7 linked regions of the Homo sapiens genome follow. The protein of the gene in region 1 interacts with the protein of each later gene in a pairwise test. Each region holds a gene or a part of one and is shown in the gene's direction. Other genes may lie near its edges.

What was found.
Region 2: the proteins of MRM1 (region 1) and MAL2 interact in binary tests that used the Homo sapiens proteins (3 or more experiments, as listed by UniProt).
Region 3: the proteins of MRM1 (region 1) and KLRG1 interact in binary tests that used the Homo sapiens proteins (3 or more experiments, as listed by UniProt).
Region 4: the proteins of MRM1 (region 1) and VKORC1L1 interact in binary tests that used the Homo sapiens proteins (3 or more experiments, as listed by UniProt).
Region 5: the proteins of MRM1 (region 1) and NXPE3 interact in binary tests that used the Homo sapiens proteins (3 or more experiments, as listed by UniProt).
Region 6: the proteins of MRM1 (region 1) and TMEM11 interact in binary tests that used the Homo sapiens proteins (3 or more experiments, as listed by UniProt).
Region 7: the proteins of MRM1 (region 1) and FKBP7 interact in binary tests that used the Homo sapiens proteins (3 or more experiments, as listed by UniProt).

The regions. Positions count from the first base shown.
Region 1 is NC_000017.11:36,604,583-36,607,023, forward strand, and holds part of MRM1 (rRNA methyltransferase 1, mitochondrial precursor), read left to right. Parts: intron 1-2,441. UniProt on the Homo sapiens protein: S-adenosyl-L-methionine-dependent 2'-O-ribose methyltransferase that catalyzes the formation of 2'-O-methylguanosine at position 1145 (Gm1145) in the 16S mitochondrial large subunit ribosomal RNA (mtLSU rRNA), a universally conserved modification in the peptidyl transferase domain of the mtLSU rRNA.
Region 2 is NC_000008.11:119,239,363-119,242,767, forward strand, and holds part of MAL2 (protein MAL2), read left to right. Parts: intron 1-802; coding exon 803-958; intron 959-3,405. UniProt on the Homo sapiens protein: Member of the machinery of polarized transport. Required for the indirect transcytotic route at the step of the egress of the transcytosing cargo from perinuclear endosomes in order for it to travel to the apical surface via a raft-dependent pathway.
Region 3 is NC_000012.12:8,988,412-8,992,345, forward strand, and holds the start of KLRG1 (killer cell lectin-like receptor subfamily G member 1), read left to right. Parts: upstream 1-1,134; 5' UTR 1,135-1,224; coding exon 1,225-1,306; intron 1,307-1,800; exon of another isoform or gene 1,801-1,934; intron 1,935-3,794; coding exon 3,795-3,899; intron 3,900-3,934. UniProt on the Homo sapiens protein: Plays an inhibitory role on natural killer (NK) cells and T-cell functions upon binding to their non-MHC ligands.
Region 4 is NC_000007.14:65,949,574-65,953,073, forward strand, and holds part of VKORC1L1 (vitamin K epoxide reductase complex subunit 1-like protein 1), read left to right. Parts: intron 1-3,500. UniProt on the Homo sapiens protein: Involved in vitamin K metabolism. Can reduce inactive vitamin K 2,3-epoxide to active vitamin K, and may contribute to vitamin K-mediated protection against oxidative stress.
Region 5 is NC_000003.12:101,796,211-101,799,710, forward strand, and holds part of NXPE3 (NXPE family member 3 isoform 1 precursor), read left to right. Parts: intron 1-3,500.
Region 6 is NC_000017.11:21,197,454-21,200,807, reverse strand, and holds the end of TMEM11 (transmembrane protein 11, mitochondrial), read left to right. Parts: intron 1-1,967; coding exon 1,968-2,484; 3' UTR 2,485-2,854; downstream 2,855-3,354. UniProt on the Homo sapiens protein: Plays a role in mitochondrial morphogenesis.
Region 7 is NC_000002.12:178,468,601-178,472,100, reverse strand, and holds part of FKBP7 (peptidyl-prolyl cis-trans isomerase FKBP7 isoform a precursor), read left to right. Parts: intron 1-576; exon of another isoform or gene 577-664; intron 665-2,315; coding exon 2,316-2,449; intron 2,450-3,500. UniProt on the Homo sapiens protein: PPIases accelerate the folding of proteins during protein synthesis.

The DNA.
Region 1 (2,441 bases):
GATCATGAGGTCAGGAGATCAAGACCATCCTGGCTAACACGGTGAAACACCATCTCTACTAAAAATACAAAAAATTAGCTGGGTGTGGTGGTTCGTGCCTGTAGTCCCAGCTACTCGGGAGGCGGAGGTAGGAGAATCGCTTGAACCCGGGAGGTGGAGGTGGTAGTGAGCCGAGATTGTGCCACTGCACTCCAGCCTGAGTGACAGAGTGACGTGTCAAAAAAAAAAAAGAGATGAGGTCTTGGCCGGGAGCGGTTGTTAAGAGATGGGGTCTTGGCCAGGCACGGTGGCTCACGCCTATAATCCTAGAACTTTGGGAGGCTGAGGCAGGTGGATCACCTGAGGTCAGGAGTTCGAGACCAACCTGGCCAAAATGGTGAAACCCTGTCTCTACTAAAAATACAAAAATTACCTGGGCATGGTGGCGGGCACTTGTAATCCCAGCTGCTCGGGAGGCTGAGGCAGAAGAGTTGCTTGAATCCAGGAGGCGGAGGTTGCAGTGAGCCGAGATCACAGCGTTGCACTCCAGCCTGGGCAATAAGAGTGAAACTCTATCTCAAAAAAAAAAAAAAGAGAGAGAGAGAGAGAGAGAGATGGGGTCTTGCTGTGTTGCCCAGCCTGGAGTCCAGTGGCACAATCACAGCTCAGTATAGCCTCCGAATTCCTGGGCTCAAGCCATCCTCCCACCTCAGCCTCCTGAGTAGTTGGAGATACAGGTGCACACCATCTCACCTAATTTTTTTCTTTCTTTTTTCTTTTTCTTTTTTTTTTTGTAGAGATGAGGTCTCACTTTGTTGCCCAGGCTGGTCTCAAACTCCTGGCTTCAAGAAGTCCTCCTGCCTTAGCCTCCCAAAATGCTGGGATTACAGGCGTGAGCCACCTCACCTGGTCCTGGATCTCTTTTCTGTATATGTTCATTTCTTGTTGGTCTCATCTAGTCTCATGGCTTTAAATACTATCTGAATTCAAATTCCCGCCCAAGTGTATACTCCAGCCTGGACCTTGGTTCTGAATTCCAGATTCACTCATCTAGTTGCCTACTGCACAGTTGTTGTTATTGTTGTTGTTGTTTTGCTGTCAGGCGGGCATTTCAAACCTAACATTTCTAAAACTGAGCGCTTGTTCCTTCTGGAGCAACTCCATCCCTTTGGTTGTTTAGGTCAAAAACCTTGGCATCATCCTTAACTAAAGTTATTTCCGTATTATCACCATTTCTGCCTGTTTCCACTGCTACCACTCTGGCCCAAGCAAGTCACCATCATCTGTTGACCGTTATTGCAGAAACTTCCCACCTGGCCTCCTTTCTTCTGCTCTTGGCTCTCAGCACAGCAGGCAGAGTGATTCTGTTGAAGTCATACCATGTTACTTCTCTGCTCAAAACCTTTCAAAGCCTCTGTACCGCTCAGATTCAAAGGCAGAGTCCTTCCAGTAGCCCTGGAGACCATACCTCATGTGGCTCTTGTTCCTTCTTCTGTCTTGACGCCTCTCTTCCCACTGGCCACCTTACTGTTCTCAAACATGCCAGGGAGGCACCTGCCTCTGTGCTTGCTGATCTCTCTGCCTAGAATGTTCTTGCCCCAGATGTCTGCACGGTGCTCCTCCTTCTCCTTCAGGTCTGCACTCAAATGTCACCTCAGTGAGTCCATCCCCACCTGCCCTTCCACAAGGCTGGGATTTTGGTCTGTTTTGTTTTGTTCAGTGCCCTGTCCTCAGTGCCTAGAACAGAGCCCATGCTAGGTGCTTAATAACTATTGACTAATTGACTGGATCAGCAGATAAATGAATGTATGGGCAAGGCTGGGCTCTTCCTTGGCCAGGGCTCTGATGGATAATTTTTTTTTTTTTTTTTGAGATGGGGGTCTCACTCTGTCACCCAAGCAGGAGTGCAGTGGCGCAATCTTAGCTCGCTGCAATGTCTGCCTCCTGGTCTCAAGAGATCCTCGTGTCTCCTGAGTAGCTGGGATTACAGGCTGATTTTTGTATTTTTAGTAGAGACAGAGTTTCACCATGATGCTCAGGCTAGTCTTTTTTTTTTTTTTGAGACAGAGTGGAGTCTCGCTTTGTTGCCCAGGCTGGAGGCAGTGGTGTGCTCTCAGCTCACTGCAACCTCCGCCTCCCGGGTTCAAGCGATTCTCCTCCCTCAGACTCCCAAATAGCTGGGACTACAGGCATGTGCCACCACACCCAGCTAATTTTTTGTGTGTTTTTAGTAGAGACGGAGTTTCACCATGTTAGCCAGGGTGGTCTCAAACTCCTGACCTCAGGTGATCCGCCCGCCTCGGCCTCCCAAAGTGCTGGGATTACAGGCGTGAGCTACTGCGCCTGGTTTTTTGTTTTTTTTTTTAATTTGAGATGGAGTTTCACTCTTGCTGCCCAGGCTGGAGTACAATGGCGCAATCTCGGTTGACTGCAGCCTCTGCCTCCCGAGTTCAAGCGATTCT
Region 2 (3,405 bases), on another chromosome or scaffold:
GTGGCGATTCCTCAGGGATCTAGAACTAGAAATACCATTTGACCCAGCCATCCCATTACTGGGTCCCAAAGGACTACAGATCATGCTGCTATAAAGACACATGCACATGTATGTTTATTGCGGCATTATTCACAGTAGCAAAGACTTGGAACCAACCCAAATGTCCAACAATGATAGACTGGATTAAGAAAATGTGGCACATATACACCATGGAATACTATGCAGCCATAAAAAATGATGAGTTCATGGCCTTTGTAGGGACATGGATGAAATTGGAAATCATCATTCTCAGTAAACTATCGCAAGAACAAAAAACCAAACACCACATATTCTCACTCATAGGTGGGAATTGAACAATGAGAACACATGGACACAGGAAGGGGAACATCACACTCTGGGGACTGTTGTGGGGAGGGATAGCATTAGGAGATATACCTAATGCTAAATGATGAGTTAATGAGTGCAGCACACTAGCATGGCACATGTATACATATGTAACTAACCTGCACATTGTGCACATGTACCCTAAAACTTAAAGTATAATAATAAAAAAATAAAATTACATATTATAAAATTCAGTATATGGAAAGGTTTACCAATGTGCCAATTAAGATGGGTCAGTTGATTTTCGCTTGGGTTCTGATAGTCTAACATTTCTAAAGCAGCTAAGCTTAACAGTGAATATAGTTAAGATTGTTTAATTAAATGTTTTGATCTTGCTAAACCTAAACTTCATTATTTAAAATAAGGAACAGAAAAATATTTTTTTTTAATTGCAGATGTCTTTTCTCTCCTCTTTTAGGATTTTGCCTACCATTTTACAGTATTTGTCTTCTATTTTGGAGCCTTTTTATTGGAAGCAGCAGCCACATCCCTGCATGATTTGCATTGCAATACAACCATAACCGGGCAGCCACTCCTGAGTGATAACCAGTATAACATAAACGTAGCAGCCTCAGTAAGTATTCATATTCAATGAGTACCATTCACCAGCACTTCCGCTCCACTGTCAAGGCCTCCAAGAAACTCCTCAGGCAACAATAGTTTTCTTCAATGCTAGCCATTGGCATTAAATATGTAATAGCTATTTATCTGTACAATAACCTTGTAAGCAAAGTGCCATGATCACCCCCAGTGTTGTGGATGATTAAACTGTAGCACGAAGAGGTTGATGTTCATGTAAGATCATAGCAAGCCAGTAGGACTGCTTGGCTTTGCACAGCAGTGTCTACTTTGCAAAAAGAGTTGTGTTTTTTGCTTCTGATAACTTTCAGAGATGGTAAAGGAGATTTCCAGTTTTGTTCTTTAGTATTCAATAGCTGCTTGCAATTTATTTCTATTGAATGAATAGTTACTGTGGGCCTACCATTTATCAAGTAATTTTGCTGGGTGTTGAGGATGGGGTGAATAAGTTGCAGTTCCTGCCATTAAGGAAAGTGCAGGTGAGAAAGGGAGGCAAATATGCCAGCCATTGCAGTAGATGATAGGCAGATGAAATATATTCCTTGGGGTATTTATTAAATTTTTTAAATCATCTTTAATTCGTATACTGGAGTGAATTTGTCATTTTGTGTAGATAATTTGAGGAAATAATATATTATTTTTGTTGTTAGAGATCATTGTTAAGATGTCAGAAGTCCAAATTAGTTTCTGAAATATTGTGATATTTAATATAAGTATATGGCAAGTTAGTGACCCTAATGTTTTATTATGTTCCCCAGGTAGCCTATAAATAACCCAGTACTCATATAGTCATTGAAATCTGTCTGGAGCAGCACTGTCTAGTAGAACTTTCTATAATGACAGGAATATTTCATGTAAGTGCTGTCCAAAATGGTGGCCACTGGCTTCATGTGGCTATTGAGCAGTTGAAAATTAACTAGGCCAAGGAATCATAGCTCATGCCTGTAATCCCAGCACATTGGTAGGCCGAGGTGGGAGGACTGCTTGAGGCCAAGAGTTTGAGACCAGCCTGGTCAACATAGCAAAACCTTGTCTCTGAAAAAGGAAAAAAAACAGAATAAAGAATTGGCCAGGCCTGGTGGCTTGTGCCTGTAGTGCTACCTACTCAGGAGGCGGAGGTTGCAGTGAGCAGAGCAGTCTGAGCGACAGACCAAGACTCTGGTCGGGGGAGAGAAAGATAACTAGTATGACTAAGGAACTTGAATTTTTAGTGTTATTTAATTTTAATAATCACATGTGCCTAGTGGCTATCATGTTAGATAATACATGTCTAGAGTGAGTTTTGAGGGGTACAAGACAAATGATTTCAAGACCTATTGTAAGTTTCCCAAGTCTCTGGTAGGATTTGTCAAAATTTATTGAGTGCCTGCAATGAATTAGGCTGAAGGTGGGATTACAACAAAAAGGAGTCATGGTTTTAGCTTTGAAAGGTTTATAGTGTAGATTCATGACTTTAACACTTGCTTATAAAAGAAATAAAGGTTTTATTTAATCAATTCTTACCTAAAACCCCAATAAATCTAGAAGATAAAAGTGTAAGTGCTCTAGTTGAAGTGGAGGAAGAGGGCCTTGAATGATGCTCATTCTCTTTTCATAAAGCTGCCTCTACCCACCCATATCATCCCTGAGGATGATAGAATCCTTGTGATCCACATTAGAAAACCCTTGGTTTTAACAGCTTTACAAAGCAAAGTTCAGGGACTTTCCTATGCTATTAGTCATCAATTCCCATTGTATTTGCCTTTATGTGTTTCTTACTTCCAGTCCCTTCATTTTAACGGTGCAGGCTAGATTCTTGTATCTTGGATCATTGAAGTAGCCCCAAATCTATTGACAGTCACCCTAGAACCTACTTTCACAAGAATAGTAGCTGCTGAAATACGTGATGGTTGTCTGAGGTCTTTAATTTGTCACCTTTGTCCTAAGGGCCTAGTTTTCCGTGTTCTCCATAATGTAGTTCTGTTCTGGCTGCTTCTCTTTTGTGACTTTGTCCCTGTTGTCCTTCCCTTTCTAAGTGAAGCTGTCTCAGTAAACCTCTACATGCTTCAAGTTCAACATTACATCCCATTTCATCCATATGCTCACTCCAGTCTAAGTAAATCTCTAGTTTGAGTTTTATTGTAACTAAAATGTATTAGCCATCCATTTGGGAAATTAGAGAGGAAAATTCCTTTTCCCTAATAATAGGTATCAAATAATAGGTATCAAAAAATAGGTATCAAAAGCTATTGCTGTCATTCAGAAAACAATGTCTAGATTAGAAATGTATCAGAGAAAAAATCAGCAGAAGAAGGGTGGAAAGAAAAGCAGAATAGTAAACTGTGAAAATGGTCTATAGGTGAATCTGGTATTCCTTCCCAGAACTGGTTTCCTGGTTAAGAATCCCTGTGCTAAACCCACAACATTTATCAAACATTTATCATGTTGAACTGCTTTTGCTTT
Region 3 (3,934 bases), on another chromosome or scaffold:
TAATGCCATTCTGTCATGGCTGGAAGCAGAAATATATTTGTTTTTATTAATATAAAACAAATTAATATAAAGCACTCCCTGTTTCTCTTCTTTTATCCTTATGCAGTCTATCTTGATGATCTTATCCACTCTTAAGAGTTTCAATACTCTTTCTGTTTCCTTACTTTAACTTTTGTTTTTTTTAGACGGAGTTTCACTCTTGTTGCCCAGGCTAGATAGAGTACAATGGTGCAGTCTCGGCTCGCTGCAACCTCCGCCTCCCGGTTTCAAGCCATTCTCCTGCCTCAGCCTCCTGAGCAGCTGAGATTACAGCCCCCACCACCACACCCAGCTAATTTTTTTGTATTTTTAGTAGAGACGGGGTTTCACCATGTTGGCCAGGCTGGTCTTGAATTCCTGACCTCAGGTGATCCACCCTCCTTGGCCTCCCAAAGTGCTGGGATTACAGGCGTGAGCCACCACACCTGGCCTACTCTAACTTTTTATTAACTTTTCACCTACTAAAAACAAATTACTAAGATGTTAGAATGTATTTGTTTACTTTGCTCTTCTTTTTAGTTATCTTTGCATGAAGTATAATAATAAAAAAAATAAGACAACAAAGAGAAAAAATATAATGGAATTTCTGATACTGTGAAGGGTAAAGACCATCACACAATTTGGACAAGGTTTTGGGGAAGATGTGGTCATGTCATATTCACAAAATATATCTGGGTAATAGTCTATTTCTCCCGTGATTCCAGGCATATGCACCCAACAGTCCATTTCGTTATTGCTTATCACTGCCCAAAAGTTCCAAGAAATGATGAAGTCAGTCTCATTTGGCATACATCTACTTTTTCAGAAGGAAACAAAGCAGAGAAAAAATTCCGAGAGAAATTCATAGCTAGTAACCACTCTCACTTTTATTTTAGTTTCCATAACTGAAATTGCTGGACTTGAGAGCAATTTTTCCTTGCTCAACAGAATTAGGTGAGATGGGGAATCAATTTAATATATATTTAGTGAGCATCTACAGTGTCATGGGGCAAAAAAATAGCAACTTACAATATTAATTTCTATAGGCAGCCCCCAAATTTGAATCATTTCCTGAAAAATTACTTCTGCTTTTGTGAAGTTTCCTGCTAGCAGTTTAGAGATTGGGCTGTTTCCTCACTGATACATATCCCTTCACACTTCTATAATTTAACTCTCTCAACTGCATGTGAAAGATCTTAGCTGAAGATGACTGACAGTGTTATTTATTCCATGTTAGAGTTGCCTACGGCAACCCAAGCCCAGAATGACTATGGACCACAGCAAAAATGTGAGTTAACCAAGGTAGCATGGAAGACGATGCATAGCAACAGTAGGCTATGGATGAATGGGGAGTAGAATAAGTTTAAAGCAGAGGGTGCAGAAGAATTGAGGATAATTTGAGGAAATACTTTTGGTTCAGTTTAAAGTCCAGAGTTGGAATATGAAAAGTTGGTGTATGGTACAGGATCTGATCTTAGGTCTCAGGTAAACTCTTTTCTAACTGTTCACTTCTTTGATCGCATCTTAGAAACCCAACTTAGGGCATTGCCGTTATTCCTTCTTGCTCTTAGCTAAAGCGGGAACTTTGTTGGGAGAATTTTATCTCTTTAGTTATATTCGGAGTAACCTTGGACCAGCTGTTTAAATTCTAGGTATGGCTGTTTTTCTGACTATGGAATGAGGAGGACACCAATAGTTTTGCTGGTGGATACGAGTAAGATTTTTGTCAGGAAAGAAACTGATTTACATATCTAGTTTTGTTTTTTTTTTTTAACTTCACAGTGTTGCACTAGAATGGTGACAGGGAAGAAAAAGTATCAAGAAACTACAGATAATAGTCTCTGTGACTGAGGATTTGAAGGCAAAAGAGCCATTTTTACATAGAGCCCTGAGAGAATATTATCTGAGACAGACAGGTAATAGTGTAAATGCCAAAATTAATCCTTGATTTTGTATCGTAGGCAGTGAACTCCCACAAGGTGTATTCTTTAGGGTAGTTCCCTAAGCTTTCTCTCTTTTTACTACATAGTTTTACTATTATAATTTTTAATGTCTTTTGAGAGTGTTGCCTTAATTTGCTAAATCATTCTAGTATACTTGGGATATTTAGACCTATTTCTATTACCATAAATTATATAGCATTGGATATCTTTATTTGTGTAACCTTTTCCTATTTTTGAATTGTATCTATGTTAATTTCTAAGGAATAGAAATATTACGTTAGAAGTAATGCATATCTCAAAGTATATGTTCAAGGTCACACACACAACTGGTGATAAATTGGAACCTAGTTGGAACTATTTAGAGGCTTTCAATATATACTTAAAGTAAATTTTAAAAATTTACTTTACTTCTTGAATTGGCTTGTGGTTACACAAATTCAATTATGGTTTGATACCTTTTTAAAATTTAGCATAACATAAAAATGAACATTTGTGTATTTCATTAAATGTTCTCCTGTGATGCAAATGTATTTTTAAAAGTTTTTCTAGAAATCTTAATGCTTTTGGATTCATCAGTCCAAATATTTATTATGCAGAATTCTCTATTTATGAAGGCATCTCTCATTATGAATTTTTTTCTTTAAGAAGTTCAGAATACTCCATAGATACACACATATATAGAATAATTTATCTAAAATTTAATCAGAAAATTGAAGCCCAAATAGGCAAGTTTAATTTCCTAATTAAATGTTATTAAGCAAAGGAATCAAAATTAGAAGTTAAATATCATCTTACTTCACAGAGTTTTGCTCGTTACACGTAATTTCTACACTATTGCACTATGAGATACCTTTGATTTTAAAATAAAGATTTGCTGAAAATACTTCCATTTTTCAAATTTAAAATTTAGATTTCGGTTGTATGCAACACAGCTAACATGAAGTAGTGTCCTATTCTTAAACTTGGCATCAACTTAAACTTACTGCTCTTTTAATAACGACAGTTTACAAAGCACTTCTGAAATGTAGATTATTTTTATTTAAATTTTATGTATTTCAATTTCGAGTAGATAATATGTTTACATGGTTCAAAATTCAAAAGGTACAAAAGAAAATAGGGTAAAAAGTCTTTTTCCTATTTTGTCTCCAGTGACTGTTTTTTCCATTCCAGAGGCAAACAATGTTATCAGATTCTTGAGTGTGCTTGCAGAGATATTTGTATATCCTGTTCTGCAGAATGTTTCTTTGTCTTGACTATATATCTTACAAAATATTCCATATCAGTTAAAAAAAAAGCCAGTTTTTATTAGAAGCTATATATTCACTTTATGGATATATCAAAAATGTATTTGACTGGCCTTTTACTGATAGAATGTAGATTGTATTCAGTCTTCTCCTCCTACAAATATTGCTGCCACGAATAAATATGACATTTTGCACCCGCGAGTATCTGTAGGAAAAATTTCTTAAGGAGAAATTTCTAGGTCAAAGGGTACATGCCTTTGCCGTTTTGGTAGATATTGCCCAATTGTCCTCCAAAGAGGTACCAATTTGTATTCTCACCACCTAAGTATGAGACAGTGTAAGTCACAGTTTCAAAGGAAAAAAGCATTCTTTATCTTGATAAATATAGTAAGTTCTTTGATACAGGTGTTGGTGGTTACCTTAGACTTTAGAGCAAGTTCCTGACACATCTAGAAAAGGAATCTTTATGGCCTGGATCTCAGTTCCCACTAGGCCAAATTGCTTTAAGATGCGATATCCTTCCCTGACTTTCTCTTTTCTTTCAACCTGTCATCTGACTCAGGATTGTGCTTTGACTCTGTTGTTGCAGCTTCCTCTTCCAGGCCTTCTTGTTCTTGCCTTGTGGCAATAGCTTTGGGGCTTCTGACTGCAGTTCTTCTGAGTGTGCTGCTATACCAGTGGATCCTGTGCCAGGGTAAGTGCAAACTTAAACCAAAATTAATCTTTCAT
Region 4 (3,500 bases), on another chromosome or scaffold:
GCAGATTACTTGAGCCCAGGAGCAACATGGTGAGACTCTGTCTCTGTAGAAAATACAAAAATTAGCCAGGTGTGGTGGCACACACCTGTAGTCCCAGCTACTTGAAAGGCTGAGGTGAGAGAATCACTTGAGTCCAAGAGATGGAGGTTGCAGGGAGCCGAGATCACACCACTGCACTCCAGCCTGGGGGTCAGAGCAAGACGCTGTCTCAAAAACTAATAATTTAATGTGAACTGTGTTTCAACATAGTGTCGTTTATCCTAAGTGTTATTGTTAACATCTAGGTTTCACTCCTTTTACTTCCAAATAATGCTGCAGTGATCAACTTTGTTTAAAGACCTCCTGCTCCTTCCTTCCTTTGAATTATCTCCACAAAATAAATTTCCAAGCATAGTATCAAAAAACACAGATATTTTCAATTTTAATCAGTGTTACCAATTTGCTTTTCCCTCAGTTCTTTGGTTTCCCTGAAGCTCCAGCGGTCTTTATTTTTAAGACATGCTTTGTAAAATTTCTTTTTTTTTTAATTGTAACGATAATCTTCACCTGGAAAAATTGCTAATAGTTACACATTAGTACCTATTACTTTAATTTTTACTCTTTTTAATTTCCTTTTATTGCCCATTTAGCATTTAGTTATTGGATCCCGATACTAGTACATTTTTATATGTGTTACAAACATTTTATGCATTCTTTATCCTTTTTTGTTAGTGTTATGAATTTGTATTGTATTAAGTTTTTATACTTTTAGAGTTAAATCCATCTGTTGATGCCTTTGCATTTTATTTTTCTTCTTTTTTGTAGATCTTGTTGCATACCAATGCTTTTGTATTTTAATTGTTAATATTCCATTACCTGTCAGCTCTTCTGATTTGGTTCATTAAAAATACATGTAACTCTTCTATCTGAAATTGATTTGTTATGAGGCAAATTATAAATCTAAATCATCCTCAGTAGTTCTGTCGAGTTTGCCCAGTTCCATATCTATGTATTTATCTTGCAGAAGTAGAAAGATGTGTGCACAAGGATATTCATAGCAGTACAGTGTAAAATAGCAAAAAAAAAATGGAGGTAGGTTACAAATAGATAATGGTTGAATAAATTAGAAAATACTATGAAATACTATGTAGCCATTAAAGGAAAAAGGAGATCTATGTTTATATCCTAGAAAGATAAAGACACTATTTAGTGAAAAAAGCAAATTTTGGTATAATAGGTATAGGATAAACGTGTTTGTATACATGCATGTAAATGCATAGAAAAGGGTCGGGTGGTTGGGGAGGAGGGAGAAATTTCACTAGGTATTCTGCATGTTTCCATTTTGCTGGATTTCTAGAGAAGAATATGAAGTATAAGCCCAGATGCAAGATGTTTTCCTTTAAAGGCAAAGAACCTAAGAACAGCCTTTGACTAGATTAACTCTTGAAGATAGAGGTGTGACAGCCAAATTTTTGTTTTACCATTAATTTAATGCCATGGTATATACATATTTTAAATCATATTTATCACATGTGTTTTTTCATTCGCATTTTTTGACTCGCATTTAGATGCTTCACGTGCCTTTTAATGTTGGTGTCTTCATGGGAGGCACATTTGAACTAACCTAGCAATTTCCAGAGCACAGCATCTGTACTCCCTTCTAACCTGTTTGAGACACAGCATTTTTAATTTAATTTTTTCATAGGTAATCCATTCACGTGGTTCAAAAGTTTTTAAAAAGGACCGGGCACAGTGGCTCATGCCAATAATTCCAGCATTTTGGGAGGCCAAGATGGGTGGATCACGAGGTCAGGAGTTCAAGACCAGCCTGGCCAACATGGTGAAACCCCATCTCTACTAAAAATACAAAAATTAGCCAGGTGTGGTGCCGCACACCTGTAATCCCAGCTACTTGGGAGGCTGAGGCAGGAGAATTGTTTGAACCTGGGAGACAGAGGTTGCAGTGAGCTAATGTCGCACCATTGCACTCCAGCCTCGGTGACAGAGCGAGACTCCTTCAGGAAAAAAAAAATATATATATATATACATATATAAAATGTTACACAAAGAAAAATCTATCCCACCCCTTCCCTTTATGCCTGGTTTCCAGTGCTCCTCAGCCCCGACTGGTAGCTTGTTATTGTCTCTTTATGCATATACGAGAAAGTACAAATACACAATCTTAATTTTCCTCCTTTTTAAAATATAAAAGGCAGATGCTATACCCACTGTTCTGCAGCTTGCATTTTCTTTTTTTGCCTGATGAATATATCATGGTGATTTTTCCATATCAGTATATTAAATGTCTTCATTCTTTTCTACAGCTGCAGAATAATCCATTGCATAATTGTACCATCATTTATTTAGAGTTACAGCACATTTTAAATTCCACTGGGAATTTGACCCTGAGCCAAACGTACCTAGCTGCATTACAGTAGCATTTAATGGATATCTGGTATTTATACACTATTCTAAGTGCTTTAATCCTGCATTATCTCAGCTCATTTAATTGCCCAGCAGTCTTAAGAAGTAGGCATGATTGTTATCCCAATTTTACAGTTGAGAAAAGAAAGGCATAGAGGAAGAAATAAGTTGCCCGTATCATTCTGAAGTTAACTTTCTTAGGTAAAATTGTGACCACATTAATTTCGAAATGTTAGTTGTTTAGCATAGGTGAAGTCAGCAAACTTTTTCAGTAAAGGGCCTGGCAGAAAATAGGCTTTGCCAGTTGCCGCAGCCACTCAACTCTTCTAGTATGAAAGCAGTCACAGACATTACGTAATGAATGACATTACATAAATGAATGAGCATGGCTGGGTGCCAATAAAACTTTATTTACAAAAGCAGGTAGCTGGCCAGATTTGCTAGTCCCTGCAACAAGTAATTCAGCAGCACCTTAGTCTTGAAGTGCCCTATGAAAGCATCTAGGCCCGTGGCTGTGCGGCAGCCGGCCCACAGGCGTCTTCTTGTTGCATTTTTTTTTTTGCCAACAGGGCCCAGGATTTCAGCTCTTTAACTGACTTCTTTATACCTGCTCCCACCTGTTATTTTGTTCCTGTTTCTGTTATCCTTATCCATGAGTCATTGGGTAGGAGGGTAGTTTAACATGCTCTGCCTTCTCTGTCCTTGAAAATAAATGCACATATTCTCTATACTGTTGCCTATAAGAAATTAAAAACAATACATGTGAAGATAGAGTCCAGAATTCAGGTGCCTTTTTTTTTCCTTTTTTTTTTTTTTTTTTTTTTTTGAGACAGAGTTAAGACTCTGTCGCCCAGGCTGGAGTCCACTGGTGCAATCTTATCTCACTGCAACCTCCGCCTCCTGGGTTCAAGTAATTCTCGTGCCTCAGCCTCCCTTGTAGCTGGGGTTGCAAGCGTGCAATACCATGCCCAGCTAATTTTTTTTTTCTCTTGTACTTTTTAGTAGAGAGGGGCTTTCACCATGTTGGCCAGGCTGGTCTCAAATTCCTGACCTCAAATGATCTGCCTGCCTTAGCCTCCCAAAGTCCTAGCATTACA
Region 5 (3,500 bases), on another chromosome or scaffold:
GGTTCACTAGGCCAGGAGTGAAATGGATGTGGGACAGGCAATCACCATGTTCACTCCAGCCCATAGGTTATGATGGCTTGAGGAGTGAGCCATCTGTTTGGTATTTCCTCTTAGCTCTAAACCTAAAAAGATGGCGGGTGTGAAGTTGCCCTTGTCTTTAGGAAAATTAAGCAAATTGACATTTTTGCATTTTTGTCATTTGCAAGTAAAATTCAGGGGAATTACCACCAAATGTGTGGTGATTTCTGGATTGGGTTGCATGTATCAGTCAGTTGGGCGAGGAAGAAAGGAAAAGGTTAGGAAGAGGAGCTATGCTGTAAGCACATGGTGCATGATTTGGTCCTTAATGGTGTGTCACAGACTTACAACAACTAAAAAGGAGAGGGTGGCTGGAACATTTCCTGAAAGGTAATCAGTAAGTTAATAAAGGGAATTTTTCAAAGTCAGTTTTGTTTTCCCCATGCCATTTTTTAAATGAACAAATACTGCCATATACTCCTTTAAAATGAAGCCTCCTAAATGAGATTCTTTAAAGTGAAAATGTGTGTATGTTAGTATAAAATCAGAGGGGAAAAATACAGAATCTAAGAAGAGCATTAAACATTCTTGTATCTTGAGATTATTTTTACCTTATGTAGGATTTTGAAGTGGTTTGTTATAGGTGGGGATCCTGAGGCCTTGTTTAAGTGTTTTACTAGAAACAAGGAAATGCTATAGCTATTGAGGAGAGAGATTTTTGGTTTTGCTTTGTTGTTTATTCCCCTGCAGTTTAACCAATTGCATAACGTAAGATGTAGTTTTCTACATCTTAGGTAGATTAGTTATATGCCTCAGGTTAGGTATATAACTTTTTTCCTGCCCATTTATTCCTGTATCCTGTTTACTAATAAAGTAATTCATGGAATAGATGGAAATTTCAAAGAATGGAGAATGGTATTAAGTACACAGTTGGATCCCCTCCCCATTCTTTACTCTGAGTGAATGTAGTTGCTTATTTTTAATTATTTGGGTAGTTAGCACTAATTATACATTACATACTTATATCTTGATTTGTGAACTTTACAAGGTATCTCCTGACTTGTTCATATGAGGCAGTGTATCATGGGTGGTTAAGAACACAGGTCTTAATTCAGACAGCTTGGCTTCTAATCCTCTGCTGCTTCTAACCTACATGGCCTTGAGCAAATTATTAAGCTATTCTTTTTTTTTTTTAATTTTTTTTTTTTATTATACTTTAAGTTTTAGGGTACATGTGCACATTGTGCAGGTTAGTTACATATGTATACATGTGCCATGCTGGTGCGCTGCACCCACTAACGTGTCATCTAGCATTAGGTATATCTCCCAATGCTATCCCTCCCCCCTCCCCCGACCCCACCACAGTCCCCAGAGTGTGATATTCCCCTTCCTGTGTCCATGTGATCTCATTGTTCAATTCCCACCTATGAGTGAGAATATGCGGTGTTTGGTTTTTTGTTCTTGCGATAGTTTACTGAGAATGATGGTTTCCAATTTCATCCATGTCCCTACAAAGGACATGAACTCATCATTTTTTATGGCTGCATAGTATTCCATGGTGTATATGTGCCACATTTTCTTAATCCAGTCTATGATTGTTGGACATTTGGGTTGGTTCCAAGTCTTTGCTATTGTGAATAATGCCGCAATAAACATACGTGTGCATGTGTCTTTATAGCAGCATGATTTATAGTCATTTGGGTATATACCCAGTAATGGGATGGCTGGGTCAAATGGTATTTCTAGTTCTAGATCCCTGAGGAATCGCCACACTGACTTCCACAATGGTTGAACTAGTTTACAGTCCCACCAACAGTGTAAAAGTGTTCCTATTTCTCCACATCCTCTCCAGCACCTGTTGTTTCCTGACTTTTTAATGATTGCCATTCTAACTGGTGTGAGATGATATCTCATAGTGGTTTTGATTTGCATTTCTCTGATGGCCAGTGATGATGAGCATTTTTTCATGTGTTTTTTGGCTTATTAAGCTATTCTTTGCCTCAGTTTCCTTGTCTCTAAAATGGACATAATAACAGGACTTACCACATGTGATAATTTGAACATTGAATTTAAAGATTCATGTAAACTGTTTACAAGAGTATCCAGCACATAAGTGATCACAATAAATGTTGGCTGTTTCTGCTACTGCTGTTTTTTAATTTTTCTTTCTTTTAAGCACAGGGTCTCACTCTGTTGCCCAGGCTAGAGTGCGGTGGCACAGTCATTGTTCACTGTAACCTCTAACTCCTGGGCTCAAGCAATCCTCATATATATACACATATATATGTATGTGTATATATGTATGTATATATGTATGTAGATATATGTCTATATATATAATGTATATATATGTGTGTCTATATATATATATATATTTTTTTTTTTTTTCTTTTAAAGTTTTTGAGACAAAGTCTTGTTCTGTTGTCCAGGCTGGAGTGCAGTGGCACAATCTCAGCGTACTGCAACCTCTGCCTCCTGGGTTCAAGCAATTCTCGTGCTTCAGCCTCCTGAGTAGCTGAGATTACAGGTGTGTACCACCACACCCAGCTAAATTTTTGTATTTTTAGTAGAGACAGGGTTTCACCATGTTGCCCAGACTAGTCTCGAACTCTTGAGCTCAAACGATCCCGATCTGTCCACCTCTGCCTCCCAAAGTGCTAGGATTACAGGCGTGAGCCACTGTGCCCAGCCCAGTTTTAATTTATATTTATTTATTTATTTGTTAGAGACAAGGTCTTGCTCTGTTGCTCTGGCTGGAGTTCCATGGTGTGATCATAGCTCACTACAACCTGGAGCTCCTGGGTTCAGTGATCTTCCCAGCTCAGCCTTCCGTGTAGCTAGGACTACAGGCATATGCCACCACGCTTGGCTAACTTTAAAAAAAAATTCTTGTAGAGATGGGGGTCTTGCTATGTTTCCCAGGTTGGTCTTGAACTCCTGGCCTCAAGCAGTTCTTCTGCTTCAGCCTCCCGAAGTGTTGGAATTACAGGCATGAGCCACTGCACCTGATCTACTACTGTTAACATAATGAAAGATGAGGCCTCTGCTTCATTCTCCTTCCACAATTTGTAAAATTAATTTTATTTCTATATATAACATTAAATAATGTATCTAGTCCTTTTATTTCCCCAACAGCATAATATATCTTAACTTCCTGCTCTAAGTGATGAAGAAAGCCCTACTCATTCTTATTTATTTATTTGTTATTATTTTTTTGAGATGGAGTCTCATTCTGTCGCCCAGCCTGGAGTGCAGTGGCGCGATCTTGGCTCACTGCAACCTCTGCCTCCTGGGTTCAAGCAGTTCTCTCCCTCAGCCTTCCGAGTAGTTGGGATTACAGGCGCCTGCCACCACACTCAGCTAATTTTTGTATTTTTAGTAGAGATGGGGTTTCAGCATGTTGGCCAGGCTGGTCTTGAACTCCTGACCTTGTGATCCATCTGCCTCGGCCTCCCAAAGTGCTGGGATTACAGGTGTGAGCC
Region 6 (3,354 bases), about 15 Mb from region 1:
CTGCCAGGACAGGCTGGGCGGACGGGACCTTCGCGTCTGTGCACACTGAGGGCTGTGCTTCTCGTTAGCCATGAAAGGAAGCTAGTTCCTGTCAGGCACATTCGGAGCTTCAGGTACATGGGCCACATTGACCCTTGTGTTGCCTGGTACAGTGTTCCAGAGCCTCCCAGTTGGAAGGGCATGGACTCCAGCAGGGGAGCAGTGACCAGCAGGTCCCTGGAGCCTTGTGTCCTTTAGTCAGATGGGTCCGACCATCCTGGGGACCAGGGTGTGCTGAGGGAAGGGGCAGCTTTTCCCTGAGGCATGTGACAGAACATGGCTCTGTGCAGCCTTGGGAGCCATGAGTTGGAAAACTTGATCCAGCCTCAAGAGCTATGTCTAGCAGTGTCCCCGTCAAGGCCCAGATAAAGACTTCTTGCAGATGAGCAGATAACGGAAAACTAGGATGTGGGGTGACGGTGCGGAGATTCAGAGAGATCTGTCTCAGCTGAAACCAGCCAAGGAAAGATGACAAGGCATGGATAGCCCTGTCTTCAGGCCTGCCCGCCACAGGTGAAGAAGATTCTGCTTTGGGTGGGAAATTTGTACCGCAGAGGCCTGAAACCAAGAAAAGCAAGACTGCCTGAAATGCAGCTTGGCCCACGGTCACTGCTGGGGCTGCAGCCGGGCTGCCGTCTGGCCTTGCTGCAGAGCTGAGCGTTCCGTGTGGTGGATTACTCTCCTGCTGGTTGGGGTCATGACATGCATCCCCAGTCCCGGGGGGGAAAGCCCCTTGTGTGGTCTCCGTGGCAGTGTTTCTTATGCAAATGAGTGGCATTTGCCGGTGGTGCAGGGGCCTGGGCCTACAGGGCCAGAATTGGTGGCATTGCTGGGCTGGATGTTTTGAAGCCCCTCAGTTGACCCTCCTGCTTACTAAATTTGGAGCCCACTACTGTTCTTGAAGCGTTGTCTTTTCCTAATTCAAGGAAAGGGTCGCTTTTCCTATGCAGTGGGCTAGTGTCCTGGGTCTCCTCTTCTCCCCTCCGCAGCGGGGAGGAGCTGGGGGCTGCTGCCGGCCCAGGAAGGGCACCCAGGGCTTGTGCAGCCTGGCCTCCAGGAGAGCCAAAGGAGTTTGGATTTCATTCGCCCAAGGCAAAGCTCTTCCTTTCTGCCTCTGTTCTGCAGGCCCAGGATGACTACTTAGGAAACGTGCGGAGGGCAAGGGCTTAGCATTATCTGTCCTGAGGTCTGTGGTTTCCAGTGAAGAATCCTCTTGCAGTTGCCCTGATTAACTAAGAATGGCTTTCAGGCTGTTGGCCCTCTGCTGCCGTGTGTGCTCCTGTGATTCTGTGCCGAATCGTTCTTTCCCCTTTAGGCTCCTTTGCTGACTCAGATCAGTTGGTCCACAGCCTTAGGCTAACCACCAGGCCTGTGTTTGTCATGTTAAACGTCGAGGCACTGCTTTTCCTGCCTTTTTATATCTTTTTTTTTTTTTTTTTTCTGAGACTGAGTCTCGCCCTGTCACCCAGGCTGGAGTGCAATGGCACGATCTCGGCTCACTGCAAGCTCCGCCTCCCAGGTTCAAGTGATTCTCCTGCCTCAGCCTCCCGAGTAGATTACAGGGATTATAGGCATGCGCCACCACACCTGGCTAATTTTTTTTTGTATCTTTAGTAGAGACAGGGTTTCACCATGTTGGCCAGGCTGGTCTCTAACTCCTGACCTCATGATCCGCCCCCCCGGCCTCCCAAAGTGCTAGGATTACAGGTGTGAGCCACCACACCCAGCTTTATTTCACTATTTTCAGGAAAAATCCTTTTTACTGATTATCTTGTGTTGGGATTTAAAGGAGATGAGGACCCAAGTGAGATGTGCTCTCCGCAGTGCAGGCTCAGACCTCCCCCAGCGCTGAAACACAGTTAAGTGCTCCTCAGCCTAATCATCCTGTCTCTCTCTCTCTCTCCCTTTCCTGCCCCCTCCATCAAAAGGGTGAGCTTGTCGGCCACAGACTGCTACATTGTGCATGAGATCTACAATGGGGAGAATGCCCAAGACCAGTTTGAGTACGAGCTGGAGCAGGCCCTGGAAGCCCAGTACAAGTACATTGTGATTGAGCCCACTCGCATTGGCGACGAGACAGCCCGCTGGATCACCGTGGGCAACTGCCTGCACAAGACGGCCGTGCTGGCGGGCACCGCCTGCCTCTTCACCCCGTTGGCGCTGCCCTTAGATTATTCCCACTACATTTCCCTGCCCGCTGGTGTGCTGAGCCTGGCCTGCTGCACCCTCTATGGGATCTCCTGGCAGTTTGACCCTTGCTGCAAGTACCAAGTGGAGTACGACGCCTATAAACTGTCGCGCCTGCCTCTGCACACACTCACCTCCTCCACCCCGGTGGTGCTGGTCCGGAAGGACGACCTGCACAGAAAGAGACTGCACAACACGATAGCACTGGCCGCCCTGGTGTACTGTGTAAAGAAGATTTACGAACTCTATGCCGTATGATTTCAGTAGAACAGGGAGCGAAGCAAAACCACCCGGCCCACAAGAGACAACAGAGTATTCAGATCGCCACACTCTGTGAGGCAGCAGAGCCTGGGCAGGTGTTTGGCTTAGTATTTGTTATTTTTAAAAAATAACAGATCACGGGTGTACCCAGGGTTTTTCAGCTCATTACACTAAGATGTGGATTTCCATAACCCAAGAGGGGGGTCTGAGGCTGTGGAAGTCCGACTGGGCAGTGGAATGCTGATGGAGGCAGACGCTGCCGAGGGGGTGTGGACGTGCTTTGGGGGAGGTCTTTAAGTCTATTGTTTAACTGTACCATCCAGAGCCCACCAGAAGCTATTGATCATTAAAATTATGAGAATTTCAACTCCCGCTGTTCTCTCTTTCCATGACTGCCCGCAGCTGCTGCTGCACATCTGCTCTGGGTGGCGGCTTGCACATGGAAGGAGCAGGTGCCATGGTAGCCACCCTGCCCTGCTCCTAGCTGCGGCCCAGTGTTACCACTTACAGCGACGACAAGCCTAGATCCAAGGTAGTCCTGGGGCCAAACCCCGCCCAGGAGCAGTCTCCTGGCTCACCTTGGCCTCATCATTCCGAAGGCCATCACTGCCACCATGCTGTTCAGGAACATGGTAGGATAAGGTGACGAGGCTTGGAGGCCTTTGGGTGTCCACTTGAGTTCACGTGGGGAACTCTGGGCTCCAGGATCGCTCTTCAGAGATCTGAACACCTGTGTTTTCTTTGAAGCACCAAAACTCTTCCTACTGTGGACCATGAGTTTATTAACCCATTGCCCTAGGCTGACAGAAGAGCCCTCGGAGCAATCTTGGAAGCACCCCCTGGCCTCAGTGCTCGCTGTTCCACAGG
Region 7 (3,500 bases), on another chromosome or scaffold:
CTGTCTCAAAAAAAAAAAAAAACGAAAAGAAAAGAAATTTGAATTTGTGTTTTGAGTTTGCCTTGAATTATTGTCAGGAGACAATAATTCTGTCATAAGGAGATAACTGGAAAAAATAGGAATGGGTTTTATAAAACAATCATTGACTCAATCTCTAGCTCTTCTACTCTAAAGTCAGGTAATATGTGGTGCATTAGGTTAGGACTTTTATGTTAGTCATATGATGCATGGGTAGATCTTTCTATGTTTTCTCTTTGAAAACTACTAATCTGCTACTCCTTTTGGCTATAACTCACAAACTCTTTTCTCTTCAGACTATATAAAGACTTTAGCTAGAATGCTTCACTTTTTTATTAAAGAAATTGCTGTTTCCTTCCAAGGACAAACATTTTAAAAATAAATGATATGGGTCATTCATTCGGCAAATATTGGACTGCCTGTAGTAGATTAGGCACTGTGTAGGACACTGGCAATATACTGATGACACAAGCTACCCGCTGCCCCTTAGCAAGTCATTTTTGCAAGTCACTTTTATGACATATTTATCTGAAATAGCCCATCACTTATTAAAATCACCTGTGACATCATGGCCTGGCACGGTGACTCACGCCTGTAATCCCAGCACTTTGGGAGGCCAAGGTGGGTGGATCCTTTGAGGTCAGGAGTTTGAGACCAGCCTGGCCAACATGGTGAAACCCCATCTCTATTAATAAAGTATAAAAAATTAGCCAGGATTGGTGGCAGGCACCTGTAATCCCAGCTGCTCGGGAGGCTGAGGCAGGAGAATTGCTTGAACCTGGGAGGCAGAGGTTACAGTGAGCCGAGATCGTGCCATTGCACTCCAGCCTGGGTGACAGAGGAAGATTCTTGTCTAAAAAAAAAAAAAAAATCTGTGACATCAGCTAATAGGTTAACTTAATTAAAGAGAGCAATTCTGGCCAGGCACAGTGGCTCACATCTGTAATCCTAGCACTTAGGGAGGCCAAGGCAAGCGGATCACCTGAGGTCAGGAGTTCAAGACTAGCCTGGCCAACATAGTGAAACCCCATCTCTACTAATAATGCAATGCCTGGTGTGCACCTGTAATCCCAGGTACTCAGGAGGCTGAGGTAGGAGAATGGCTTGAACCCAAGAGGCAGAGGCTGCAGTAAGCGGAGATTGCACCACTGCACTCCAGCCTGGGAAACAGAGTGAGACGCCGTCTCAAAAAAAATAAATAAAAATAAAAATAGGTATTCAACTTATTGCTTAAAAATGTATACAATTTCTTTGTAAAATTGTTACTGAATTTTTATTTTAATTCTTTTTTTTTTTAATAGAGACAGGGTCTCACTATGTTGCCCAGTTTGGTCTCAAACTCCTGGGCTCAAGTGATCCTCCTGTCTCGGTCTCCCAGAGTGCTAGAATTACACGTGTGAGCCACTGTGCCCAGCCTGTTACTGGATTTTTCTATCATTGCACTTATTTTTTAATGTCTATAAAAAATTTGAAAGACAAATATATTAATACTTATGTTTTATTTATGCTTCCAAATAACTACACAAAATCACTTTCTAAAAGATGACTCATCTATGCTTTGCAATTTTTCTGCCCATGCATTTCTTCTCTGTGCCACCTCTCTTCTGTGTTGATGATAGGAGAGTACAGTTGTCTCTCAGTACCTGTTAGAGATTGGTTCCAAGACCTTCTCATGGATTCCAAAATCCACAGAAGCTCAAGCCCCTGATACAAAATGGCATCACATTTGCACATAACCTCTGGACATCTTCCGGTGTACTTTAAATTATCTCTAGATTACTTATAATATCTAATACAATGTAAATGTTATGTAAAAGATTGTTATATTGTATTGGTTAGGGAATAATGACAAGACAAAAGTCTGTACATGTTTATTACAGACACAACTATCCTTTTTTTGTATGAATATTTTCAAGCCGAGACTGGTTGAATCCACAGATGCAGAACCCACAGATATAGAGGGTCATATCCATGCATTAATAAAAAGTTTATGATTTTTACTTAAATTAATCAAGAAATAGTGGTCCCATAGGTCCTTTGAATTGACTTGGTTTGGAAACATATGGAAAAAATATTCCTAAAAAAGTATTTATAAAAAAAAGAGAAAAAAAAACAAAAAAGAAAACTATTGAAAAGCCGAAAAAAGTTATAAAAGATGAGAAAAAATTAAAAATTGTGAGTATTCAGATAGCAATTCTTATCAACATGAAATAATATAATATGGTTATGGCAGTTCATGAATAGATATTTGAACTATATCTTTACATAAGTTAAACTGTTAAAATTTATACCCTTAGCAGAAGGCAAGATTCCACCGGATGCTACATTGATTTTTGAGATTGAACTTTATGCTGTGACCAAAGGACCACGGAGCATTGAGACATTTAAACAAATAGACATGGACAATGACAGGCAGCTCTCTAAAGCCGAGGTAATTCAAACCAATTTCATGTGTATAGTCTAATTTTTTTATCACAGTTTAAATACATCTGTGTTACAACTATTACTTTTTAGGTCTAGCTAGCATGGGCTCTGATCACTGCTTTTATAGAGCTGGTCACTAAAAAATAATCTAAGCGCTTAGAAAAAGCTCTAAGCTTTTTCAGTATAAACCTTGTGAGTCATCCTGTTCAATTGCCTTTCTCCCTGCAAGAGAGTCATTAAAATCCCGAATTATTTGTCTCTACAGTGCTCTTCCAGTTTCTAGATTACACTAGCATATCTCTTTTTCAGACAGCACTGTAAGAATTTGCAACAGGGCAAATAATTCACGCCTCATAGGATGATGAAAAGAGCTAGCAAGGGTCTGAATTGAGTGGGCTAGAAAGTTGGTAAACAGGAGCCAGAAGTTCAGCCAGCTAGCGTCTGTATCTCAGCCTTGTAATAAAGATCTTGTAATAATAATGATAATTGGGCTGGGCATGTGGCTCATGCCTATAATCTCAACACTTTGAGAGGCCGAGGTGGGAGGATTGCTTGAGCCCAGGAGTTCAAGACCAGCCTGGGCAACACAGGGAGACCCCCGTCTCTACAAAAGATTTAATAAATTAGCCAGGCATGGTGGTGCATACCTGTGGTCCCAGCTACTCAGGAGGCTGAGAGGTAGGAGGATCGCTTGAGCCCAGGAGGTTGGGGCTGCAGTGAGCTGTGATCATGCCACTGCACTCCAGCCTGGAAGATAGACTGAGACCTTGCCTCCAAAAAAAAAAAAAAGATAATAATAGATAACATTTATTTTATACTTTTAGTACCAGGTACTATTTATAAGCACATAAGTATGTGAACTTATGTAATCTTCATGATAGTTTATGGGGCAGACACTATTGTCATCATCTTCGCTTTTAGATGGGGAAAATAATAATCAGGTTAATCAGCCAAAAATCACACAGTAGTAAGGGGCAAAACCTGGGCAATCTGGCTTCATGACTGTTCTTACATTTCAATTTTTTAAATTTTTCTTAGAGACAGGGTCTTTCTCTGTT